2 separate regions of the Homo sapiens genome follow, and region 2 is linked to region 1. The links come from fine-mapping of genetic effects on gene expression. Tissue or cell type: lung. Region 1 holds a variant in brackets; the other region holds the start of a gene. All regions are shown on one strand. Distances are from middle to middle.

Region 1 (5,151 bases):
TCAGTGTTCTTTTCATGGCTTATAGATGCTCTCTATAGACCTCCAAATTTGAAAGGCATCTATAGATACAAGGCTTGCATTTATTGAATAGATAGGCACTAAGAGTAACCTGTGGTTCTTTTTGTGGGTAGGATTTATGCTGAACTATATGGCATTGGTTAACTACTTCTAAGGGACTGGCTAATGTCTCAGTTCAATATTTACCTATTGAGAGTGCAACCACTCCATGCAAGCTTTAAATTAGTTCTGCATATGATCTGCAATTATAATTTTTCTAGCTATAGATTAATATTTTTAAAATGTACTTATTTTTCACAGATCCCATCCAGTGTACAAAATTGATTTTTATTTTATATTTTAGGAACAGGGTTTCATCATGTTGCCTAGAGTGCAATGAAACTGAACTCAAGTGACCCTCTTGCCTCAGCCTCCCAAGTTAGGTGGGAATACAGGCATGCGCCACCAAGTTTGGCTTTGCAAAGTGATATATAACTTCACTCTTTTTCAGAATAAGGTAACAGCAAGTAATGCATTTTAACCTCTTGTTCAAACCATATAGTAGTGTATATATGTTTATTAGAGGTTCTAATGTATTATTAAAATATTTTTCTCAGCCCCACTTGAACATCTGATAGCTTTGAAGGGCGGCTCTGGGAGTAACAGTGGGTGTTATCAATAGTCTTCTAAAATGTAAGCTTCCCAAAGGACTAGAAAAAAAATCCAAGACATATATTCAAATGTATTCTTAAGGATCACTCTATAAAAATAGAGAGTTGTGAATCTGCATCTGCCAGTGATACGCAGTGGGTAGCAAGTCATTTAACTGACTTGGTTATAGACCTTCGTATTTTAACGTATCTGCTACATCATAATATCACAATATGGAATAGTTCTTGCATAAAGTGCTCTGTAAAGCCTGTCTGCATAAATGTTTAATGCAGTACACTGGTAAAATAAGTCAAAACGTGTATCACTTGTTAAATGAAAGATTATACCAATCCAAAATAACTTCTACCAGAAAGAAATAAATACTGCATTGTTTTGTTGATAAAGTGTTTCAGAAGTTAGATTATTACATAAACCCAACTTCTAAGGCAGATAATGTTTTAAGTGATGATAGTCTTGTTGTTGGTATTCCCTGAGAATACAATCATTTTACCACTTAAAGTCAAAAATTTCCCCAGACAGTTGTAGCTCTTGGTAATCTCCTTGGGTCTGGAAACTTTTGAAGAGCCAAGCTGACATTTTTCAGCTCTTTGGGCCACTGGGTTTTAGAGGGAGAAGTCCAGAGATAAGTCCAGGCTGTAGCACAACCTTCAAAACAACACAGGCGCCTCTCTGATCCTGCCCTACCTAAGCTTTGACGGTAGTGGGGCTTCTGTCTGGAGAAATGCCTTCAAAGAGTAACCAGTAGGTGTGACATAGAATTGGCCAATGTTAGCATCTGCAGCCATCATCAAAAGATGAATCCACTGCCACTGCCCCCTGAGGGGCCCCTAAAATTGCAGAAGGTATCAGCAAGGAGGCTGCCAAGGTTGTTTTCCAAGAGAGGCCACAGGAGGAAGGGAGCTACTTGGGGGCACTTACATCTTTTGTGCAGAGGAGCTTCTTTTCATGAGAGCAGGACAGTTTTAATGACTTCTTAAACACTTGTGTGGGACAGGCTGGAGCATGAGGGAGGTTTTAAGCCAGGCACAAAGTTAGTTTCAAACACTAGTTAATAAATCTATTTTTATTTCCTTTTTCACACAGAAGCTGGTAGTCTAGGACCTACATGTAAACAACTTTATATGAATATTTTTTGTGCTTGGTTTACTTGGGTTGATATAATACACTGTATTTAAGTTCCCTGAACACTGGGATACTCCTAATGTTTATGAATGACGGAGGCTTTGTAAATTCATTTGTGTGAATAAAGTTATTTGGTGAGGTCAAATAATCCATATATGATTTGAAAAAAAAAAAGGTCAAAATTTTAAAGACAATTAACTGGAAATATTATATATCAGAAATTGAAAAAAAGTATTGGATAGAAGTTATAAATAAATCAAGCATAATATCTGGCATACCTGCTGCATG[A/T]ATAGGTGTCCTCTTCAAAATGTAATCTTTTACTAAGATTGAGGCTCCCTGATTAATGAGTACATCCACACATTCAACATGGCCCTTAAAAGCTGCAAGATCTAGGGGTGTTCTTCCACTACTATTTCTGACATCAAGATCTAACAAAGACTGTACCAACACTTCCAGTGCTTGATGGTGACCATGATAGGCCTAGAAATAAATAAAAATGTAAATTTAAAACATACATATTTAGACTGACTTCCTAAATACTTGAATAAATGTAAATAAGCAAACTTGTCTTCATATTATTATCCTACTTGAGATAATCCAAACTTCTACATCGAGAATTCAGGAAGTTAACTACAGATCTTTCTAATAATCAACATAGTAGGCTACTGTGTTAGGGAACAGGCATTCTAAAAATAATACAAGTTCAAATGACAGGTCATCTTTTCATGAGTATACAATGCTTGGCTCACGGCAGACATTCAATGGATGTGTGACACGGATTCATTTAAAGTCTTGATTTCAAGTCTGATTCTAAAAAGCCTGTGTTTTTTTTGTTTTGTTTTGAGACAGGGTCTTGCTCTGTTGCCCCAGCTGGAGTCCAGTGGCGTGATCATAGCTCACTGCAGCCTTGACCTTCTGGGCTTAAGTGATCCTCCCACCTCAGCCTCCTGAGTAGCAGGGACCAGAGGTACACGTCACCATGCCCAGCTAATTTTTCTTTTAATTTTTGTAGTGATGAGGGTCTCGCTATGCTATCCGGGCTGGTCTCAAAATTCCTGGCCTCAAGTCATCCTCCTACCTTGGTCTCTCAAAGTGCTAGGAATACAGGCATGAGCCACTGTGCCCAGCCAAGCCTGTGTTCTTAATCACAGTTCAGTGCTCCACATCAACTGCAAAGACAGCTAGCAACTTGAGTCAGTGCTTGAATATTCGGATTTCTCAAATTAAACTGACCATACCCACCCCATAATGTGCCATAGCTAAAAAAGAAGTAATTCTTTTAGCAAAGAAATGCATAACCGAGCCCTGCTTGAATATCACCACATACCAGGCATTGTCCTAGCTGTACAAAAGTAAGACTGAAGATTTGTCAGACTGAAGTTGTCTTTTTTTTTTTTTTTTGAGACGGAGTCTCACTCTGTCACCAGGCTGGAGTGCAGTGGCACAATCTCAGCTCACTGCAACCTCCGCCTCCCTGGGTTCAAGCGATTCTCCTGTCTCAGTCTCCCGAGTAGCTGGGATTACAGGCGCATGCCACCATGCCCCAGCTAATTTTTGTATTTTTAGTAGAAACGGGGTTTCACCATGTTGGCCAGGATGGTCTCGATCTCTTGACCTTGTGATCCGCCCGCCTCGGCCTCCCAAAGTGCTGGGATTACAGGCGTGAGCCACTGCGCCCGGCCCCGAGTTGCCTTCTTCATACAGTCTAATAAAAGGGCTTTCCAGAAAAGTCTTTTCAAAATCCAACATGGCAACTGAACATATATTATTTACACTGGACTAAATGCTGAGCAGGACATAAAGAAATAAATAAACTTCAAAGGACTATAATGCCATTTCTTGTAGAAAATGTCAGAAAGTAGCAGCAAGAGATAAACTTGCTCTGGGCCTCACTGATCTCTTTATAATGAATCTGTGTAGAAACTTGACTACTTAAGCTTGACTATCTCAAAGATTAAAGTGACTGTAGGTCACGGAATTCTACTGTTTTAGGATTACATCTAACTTTGTTCCTCAATACTAGGTCAATGAAAATTATGCTACTGAAAGAATGAACTCTGAGGAATCATACATTAAATATAAAAGACAATATAAAAAGAAGAGTTTAGCCAGTTGTGGTGGCTCACACCTATAATCCCAGCACTTTGGGGAGGCTGAGGTGGAAGGATCATTTGAACAGGAGTTTGGGGCCAGCCTGAGCAACACAGTGAGATCTCATCTCTGCCAAAAATAAATAAACAAACAAATAAATAAGCTGGACCTGGTGGCACATGCCTGTGGTCCCAGCTATGCAGGAGGCTGAGGCGGAAGTATCACTTGAGTCTAGGAGGTACAGGCTGCAGTGAGCTGGGAATGCACCACTGCAACCCAGCCTGGGTGACAGAATGAGATTGTATCTCTAAATAAAAAAAAAAAAAAAAAAAAAATGAGGTTGGGCATGGTCACTCACACCTATATCTCAGCACTTTGGCAGGCCAACACAGGAGGATTACTTGAGGCCAGGAGTTTGAGACTAGCCTGGGCAACAGTGAGACCTTGTCTCTACAAAAAAATAAAGAATTAGTCGGGAATGGTGGTGTGCACCTATAGTCCTAGCTACTCAGAAGGCTGAGGGAGGGAGGCTCACTGGAGCTCAGGAATTCAAGACTGTAGTGAGCCGTGATTGTGCCACTACACTCCAGCCTGGATGACAGAGTGAGACAATGAAAAACAACAGCAAAAATAAATAAAAAATAAAAATGAAAAGACAAGAGAAATAAATGGGAGCCATGATGATTTGCCACAGGGCTTTTCCCCCCATGATATCCTTGTATGGGACTGAGAGAAGAAGTCCAAATGTCCAGTATGACTAAAATTAGGAATCAAGGCCAGTCTCCTTAAGCCTCAGATCAGTATGTTTTCACTGTACCAAGTTGTCCCGAATGGGAGAGTTTCGTGTAAGAAATTAAAGTAACTTCTGAAAACCTCCTAGAGATAGATATGAAATGCAAAAGTGGTGGTATAATCATATTTCATTAAGCCTAATCACTAAATTATTTCAATTTTTAGTTTAAAAACACTATTTAGTATACCTATGGCATAGCAGCACTTATTCATAATAGCCAAGAGAAGAAAGCAACCCAGCATCTATTGTCAGATGAATGGATAAAGAAAAATGTGCTATATACATAACAATAATTATTCAGCTTAAAAATAAGGAAATTCAGCCACATGCTACAACATGGATGAAACCTGCTAGATGAAATAAGCCAGTCACACAACACAAAAAAATACTGTTATGATTCCACTTAAATGAGGTGTCTAGATTAGTCAAATTCATAGGAACAGAAGGTAGGCTAGTATTACCAGGGACTGGGGAAA
Region 2 (5,151 bases), 170 kb before region 1:
CACACAGTAGGCACTCACTAAGTTATAATGCATAGAATGAAAAGATTTTCCTGGTTGCCCTTATTTTCTGTGTATACACAGCCTATCTTCAGAAGAATTAAGAGTCTATAAGCTTCTGAATATAGAATATTTTATATCAAACTGTTGGAAAATATTTCCAAAGGATTACAAGGAACAGCTTCCATTTTTTTAAAGCTTAAGTTTATTTCTGAACTGTGCTATCATAAAGCCATGGTGACTAAATTAGGGGGGCAAAGCCAAGTGACCACCGGAGAAAACATATCTTTGTGATACTGAGCTGGTTACCTTAGTGATTCCCGCTAGGTCTATTCCATTGTTTTCCCTAATGTCTAATGACCACATTCCCAGCCAGAAGTGCCTGTGGATGTGCGCACTGGTTGTTCTCCATCCCAACCCTCCCCTTGGCTCTCTGCCCTCAGTGTTCCAGTCCCTGACCTCCAGGCTCTGCCCTCTGGCTTCAAGTTGGGTTGGCCAATGAGAGGCGCTGCCAAAAGGTGCTTGGATGGGAGGAGAGAGAAGATGGTGTACTTCTCCTTCACTTTCTCCCTGCTTTAGGGCCTTCCATGACCAATGCTCTTGCTTAATGGCCCCTTCTCTAAGGCTCCAAATCTGCCTGGGATCCATTTTCCTATTTGCCCCTCTTGCCTTTTCAAGCACAGGGTGGTAAAGGCATATTGCAGTTGCTAATCTCTAGGTGCCTCAGCATTCCTTGTTGGTTCCCTTAACCCCGCCCACACCTCTCAAAGTGATCCCTTCATTCAGATCTTTTCATCTGAACCACCTGAGTTGCTTCTTTATCCTGCTGTTGCCCTGATTGGTACAGTCTGCAAAAAGCTTACCTAAGAGATATCTATGTTGTGCCAGGGTGCTCTCCAAGGCAAAGAGTTCAAAAGAAAACCAGAGGTTCTTTTCTCTCTAGTTTTCTGAACTCCTTAACCACTTTGGTGCTATTTAAATTAAGTAATACAAAATGATGGTAAACCCCAGTTTGCAGATGAGAAGCTTTTATTCATTCATTCATCAAATATTTATTGATTACTATGTGCCAGGCACTGTTCTGACCCTGGGAAAACAGTAAAGTACAAGAGAGACACATGCCCTGGCCACATGGTGCTTATAGTGTAAGGCCACTGTCTCTCAGAAGTCAGGGAGCTCATCAGAGGCAGGGCTAGAACCAGAAAACTGAGTTTCCTTAAGTCCTAACCTTCAGCAGATTCTCAAAGGAATCCATGACCCAAACATGATTAAGAACCACCAAATTAGGCCAAATTAACTCTCAAGCTTCTCCCTTGAACTGGGGAATGAATAATGACTACTCACTCCTAGAAGAAGCTTGATGCTCTTAACTTGAATTTGCAGGGGCATGTGGGCACACACCCACGGTGACACCACCACTCACCTTTCCTGCCCACCCTCCTGAATTCTCCACAAATCTGCCCCCACCTCCTTCTGTTTCTCACACTTTTATAATTAGCCTCACACCAGTCTCTGAGTCACTCCCTCATGGCCCACAAACGTTGGCTACACAACTTGCTGATGAGCTGTTTTTATCAATGGACAGCAGTTGGGAGCTGGATTCAGAGATGTGCCCTCTCTGAGAGCCTGGCATTTCTGGCCCTCCCTGTGTTTCCAGCAAAGGCAGCGATAGTGAAATTTCTGTCTCAGTTGAAGTATTTATGAGACTCATGTTGGAGGCATAACTAAAACTTTGCTGGGGAGAGTCAGGGGTCACTGAGGTGAATTGAGGGGGGCTGTGAGGGTCTGCCTGCCTCCTTCAAGCCCTCCGGAAACATTTGAGTTTCCTCAGAAAGGTTTAAATAGGCCATACTAGTAACCGAATACTTCCCCTGCTCTGGGTCAGACAAGACAAGGGCAACAGGCTGCTGACCTCAGAAAAGGTTGCAGGCTGGCAGACACAGCCCCTTCCCCAAATCTCCCAGCCTCATACCCGGCAGACACACTCAGCTCCAGACCTGGCTGTCACTGTGGAACCCCCTCCACTTCTCCCTGGAAAGCTCACTTCTCTCAGGACCTCCAGCTGCCTTGTCTGAGGCTGAAGGGAAGTCGCACCCAGGAAGACAGGTCTGGAGAAAGGGAAAACCTAGTCCTGAGGCTGCAACTGCCCCGCCGCTGTTCACCCCCCACCCCACCGGCCCCTGCCACCTGCATTTTCCCTTCGAGGGACTATTGTGGCCATGGATGCTATCTGGGTCTGGAAAGAGGTTTGTTTACTCCACAACAGCCCCTGTGAGGCAAGCCCCCTTCGAAGAGGTCAGAGATGTATTTATAGAAACATCTGAGACTCACTTCTCTATTACTTGCACACCTCTGTCTCTTTTAAGCTCTCCCAAATTCCTGACCAAGATGAAATCATGCAGCAAATGGGGAGAATAGGGGAGGCAGAAACCATTTTTCAAAGTGTCTCTGCTTTGAGCAGCCAGGTAGGAGCCGGTTGGAACAAGGACAGAAGGGGCTTCCGAGACAAGCTCGGGTGACAGGAAGCTGCTGGGGTGGCCGTCTTCCTTCCAACCTCCCTCCACCAACAGTTGAATGGCAAAAACATCAGGACACATTGCAAAACAATCTTCCTTCCTCCCCCTGTCCCCTGACAGATGGAAGAGAGGAAAGTTGTGGCCATCATTTACCTGCTGAGATTGGAAGAACGCTGTTGATGAAAGTCGGCTGAGACACGATAGAGAGGAAGAAAAGCTGAAGATAAATTCCCAAAGTCATTGGATTCAGGACAACCATGCTGGCCAGGGTCTGGCGAGGGTCAAGTTAGAAAGGAGGCTGCTGCGGAGCCTTGCTTATCTCTGCTTTTCTCTTCCTCACTGCTGTTTGCGTGCGCGTGTGTTTGTGTGTGTGTGTGTGCGTGTGTGTGTGTGTCTGTGTGTGTGTGTGTCTTTCCCTCTTTCTCTTTCCCTCTCCCTCCTCCTCACCCCCTCCCTCTCTCTCCCTCCCCCACCTCTCCTGTCTCCCATGCCTTTACCAAGAAAGAATGCCAACCATTTCCCATTAAACTGTCTCCATGCTACAGAGAGTTATATTTATCTCAAGCTCCATATCAAATGCCCACATTAAAATTAAGATGTCAAAATTTTCTTTTTTGGAGACTGAGGTAAGTGGCTAGTGAAGAGGTGATGAGAAGGCAGCCAAGTCTCAGATGTTCACTGGAGGCAGTCCTCAAGGGCAGAGAGATTCCTAATTGGTTATGTGCCACCATCTACCTCCTTGGAACTGGGCAGAAACAACTCTCCTGATTCAAACTGAATTTCATGGAGAAAAACCCCTCCACTGTCAGCCTGTGACATTTTTACCCATTGTGTAACAAATGTAAAGTTAACTTTTAATTTTTTTCTTTAATCATCCAATAAAAAGGAGGAAGGAAGTAGTTTATATTTCCAAACAGCTTTCTCTGTGAAAAAGTGTTTCTCTCTCCAAAAGCTGCAACCTTTTGATTCAATGCAAGGCAAAATAAATGAAAACAGTAAAAGTATAGAAAAGTGAATGATTTTTATCAAACTATATTCAGAAAAATAACATCACTAACTTAATCTTTGGCTAGACAAAATTATTCAAATAAAAATTATCACATTCTTAATACCTTTTATGAGTTTATAAAAGCCTGTTATAGAGATGATTAGATGACTAAAACAAAATAATAATTCACAGAGTTGTTCATTTTGCTTTAATTTACATATTACATGCCTCATAGGAGTTAACTCAGAAACAGTCTGCTAGTTACTGGATGCTGGGGTGGGCATCCTGCCCCTGTGCTCATTATGGGGAAGGTGGAGTTGGGTCAGGGCGTGGTATAAAGTGATATTTTACAGCTGTAGCACCACACTTGGGCTTGACTCTCAGCTCTGAGTGGCAGTGGACAAGCTCACCTCTCTAAGCCTCAGTTTTCTCATCCATACAATGGAGACAATGTTCCCTTTAAAGGTTTGTTGGAAAGTTAAGTGAGGTAATGGGGATGAATCCTACACGGATTAGAACTTGCACATAGGAACAGCACAAAGGAGACCCAAGGGAGCCATGGTAGCCTGGGTGCAAAGATGGCCTCCAAAAGTCCTCCCAACCCAGTGTGTGCATGACACTCTTCCCAGCAAAAAGCAGGGCTAGTTCCCCTCCCTTAAATCTGAGGTGGCTCTGTGACTTACTTTGACCAATAGAATGTGGCTAAAGGGACACTGTGCCATCTCCTGGCCTAGGCCTTAAAAGGCCTGGCAGCTCCTGCTTTTGCCTTTTCTTGAAAATCAGCTGCCACTTTAAAAAGTCTGGACTATTGAAGAGGCCACATGGAGGGGGAAGCAGCCAGCCTCCAGCTGTTCTGACTATCCCAGATGCAGCATCAACAGGCGAGTGAGGCCATTTTGGAACATCTAGCCCTGTCCTGGTCTCAGATGATGCCAGCCACAGGAGTGACCCCAAGTGAGACCCTCGAAAGAACTGCCCAGCCCAGATTACGAAGTCATGAGCAAATAAAACGGCTATTGTTTCAAACCAGTAAGTTTTAGGATGACTTGCTCATCAGCAATAGCTAACTGATACAGAGTTGATAAGGAAAGCTTTTGAAAGCATGAAAAATATACCTGAACTACATTCAAAATTTATAGGACAGATTAAAGAGAGGGTACCCCCATTTAGCTGCTCCCAAAATTTTTACAAGAAGGAGCTGTGATTGCTGGCCAAACTCAATCAGGACATTCTCAGGCTCACTCTTGTTAACTCCTGGAGCCCCAGCAGCCAGCTTCCAGTGGCTTGGAGAAGGTACAGTCTACCTGGGAGGAAGGTATCTTTTGAGTAACTTGGTGTCAGAATATGAATTTTTACTATCTAGCTCAGATTCCTCCTCTGCAAAGCCAGTATGACTTCTTCCTTCTCTCAGCACAAAGAATTCACCACTGACCATACCCTTGGAACAAATTCTGTCAATACGTCCTACCGGTGACACCTGCTGCTATTGTTTTTGAACACCACCTTGTGTTGCTATTTAGCTGGCATTAACATCCCTAAAGATAGGGGACTATCCCACAGCTCTATGTACTCTCAAGGCCCCCAGGACAGTCCTTGTCACCTAACAGATCCTCAACAATGTAAGTTACTTTGATCAAATCACACCACTGG

What was found. PIP is the estimated chance that this variant, and not a neighbour inherited with it, causes the effect.
Region 2: COLQ starts here. The variant in region 1 is fine-mapped to the expression of COLQ in lung (TOPMed, PIP above 0.99).

What each region holds. Positions count from the first base shown.
Region 1 is chr3:15,687,950-15,693,100 of GRCh38, forward strand. It overlaps ANKRD28 (ankyrin repeat domain 28), which reads right to left. Exons shown (of 28, transcript NM_001349278.2): 18 at 2,070-2,271. It also overlaps a transcript of BTD not described here. Among named protein-coding and RNA genes, the nearest start is that of MIR3134, 6.8 kb to the right of the region's middle. The variant A/T (reference allele first, on the strand shown) is at 2,080.
Region 2 is chr3:15,518,854-15,524,004 of GRCh38, forward strand. It overlaps COLQ (collagen like tail subunit of asymmetric acetylcholinesterase), which reads right to left and starts at 2,853. Exons shown (of 17, transcript NM_005677.4): 1 at 2,667-2,853. The coding sequence starts at 2,772.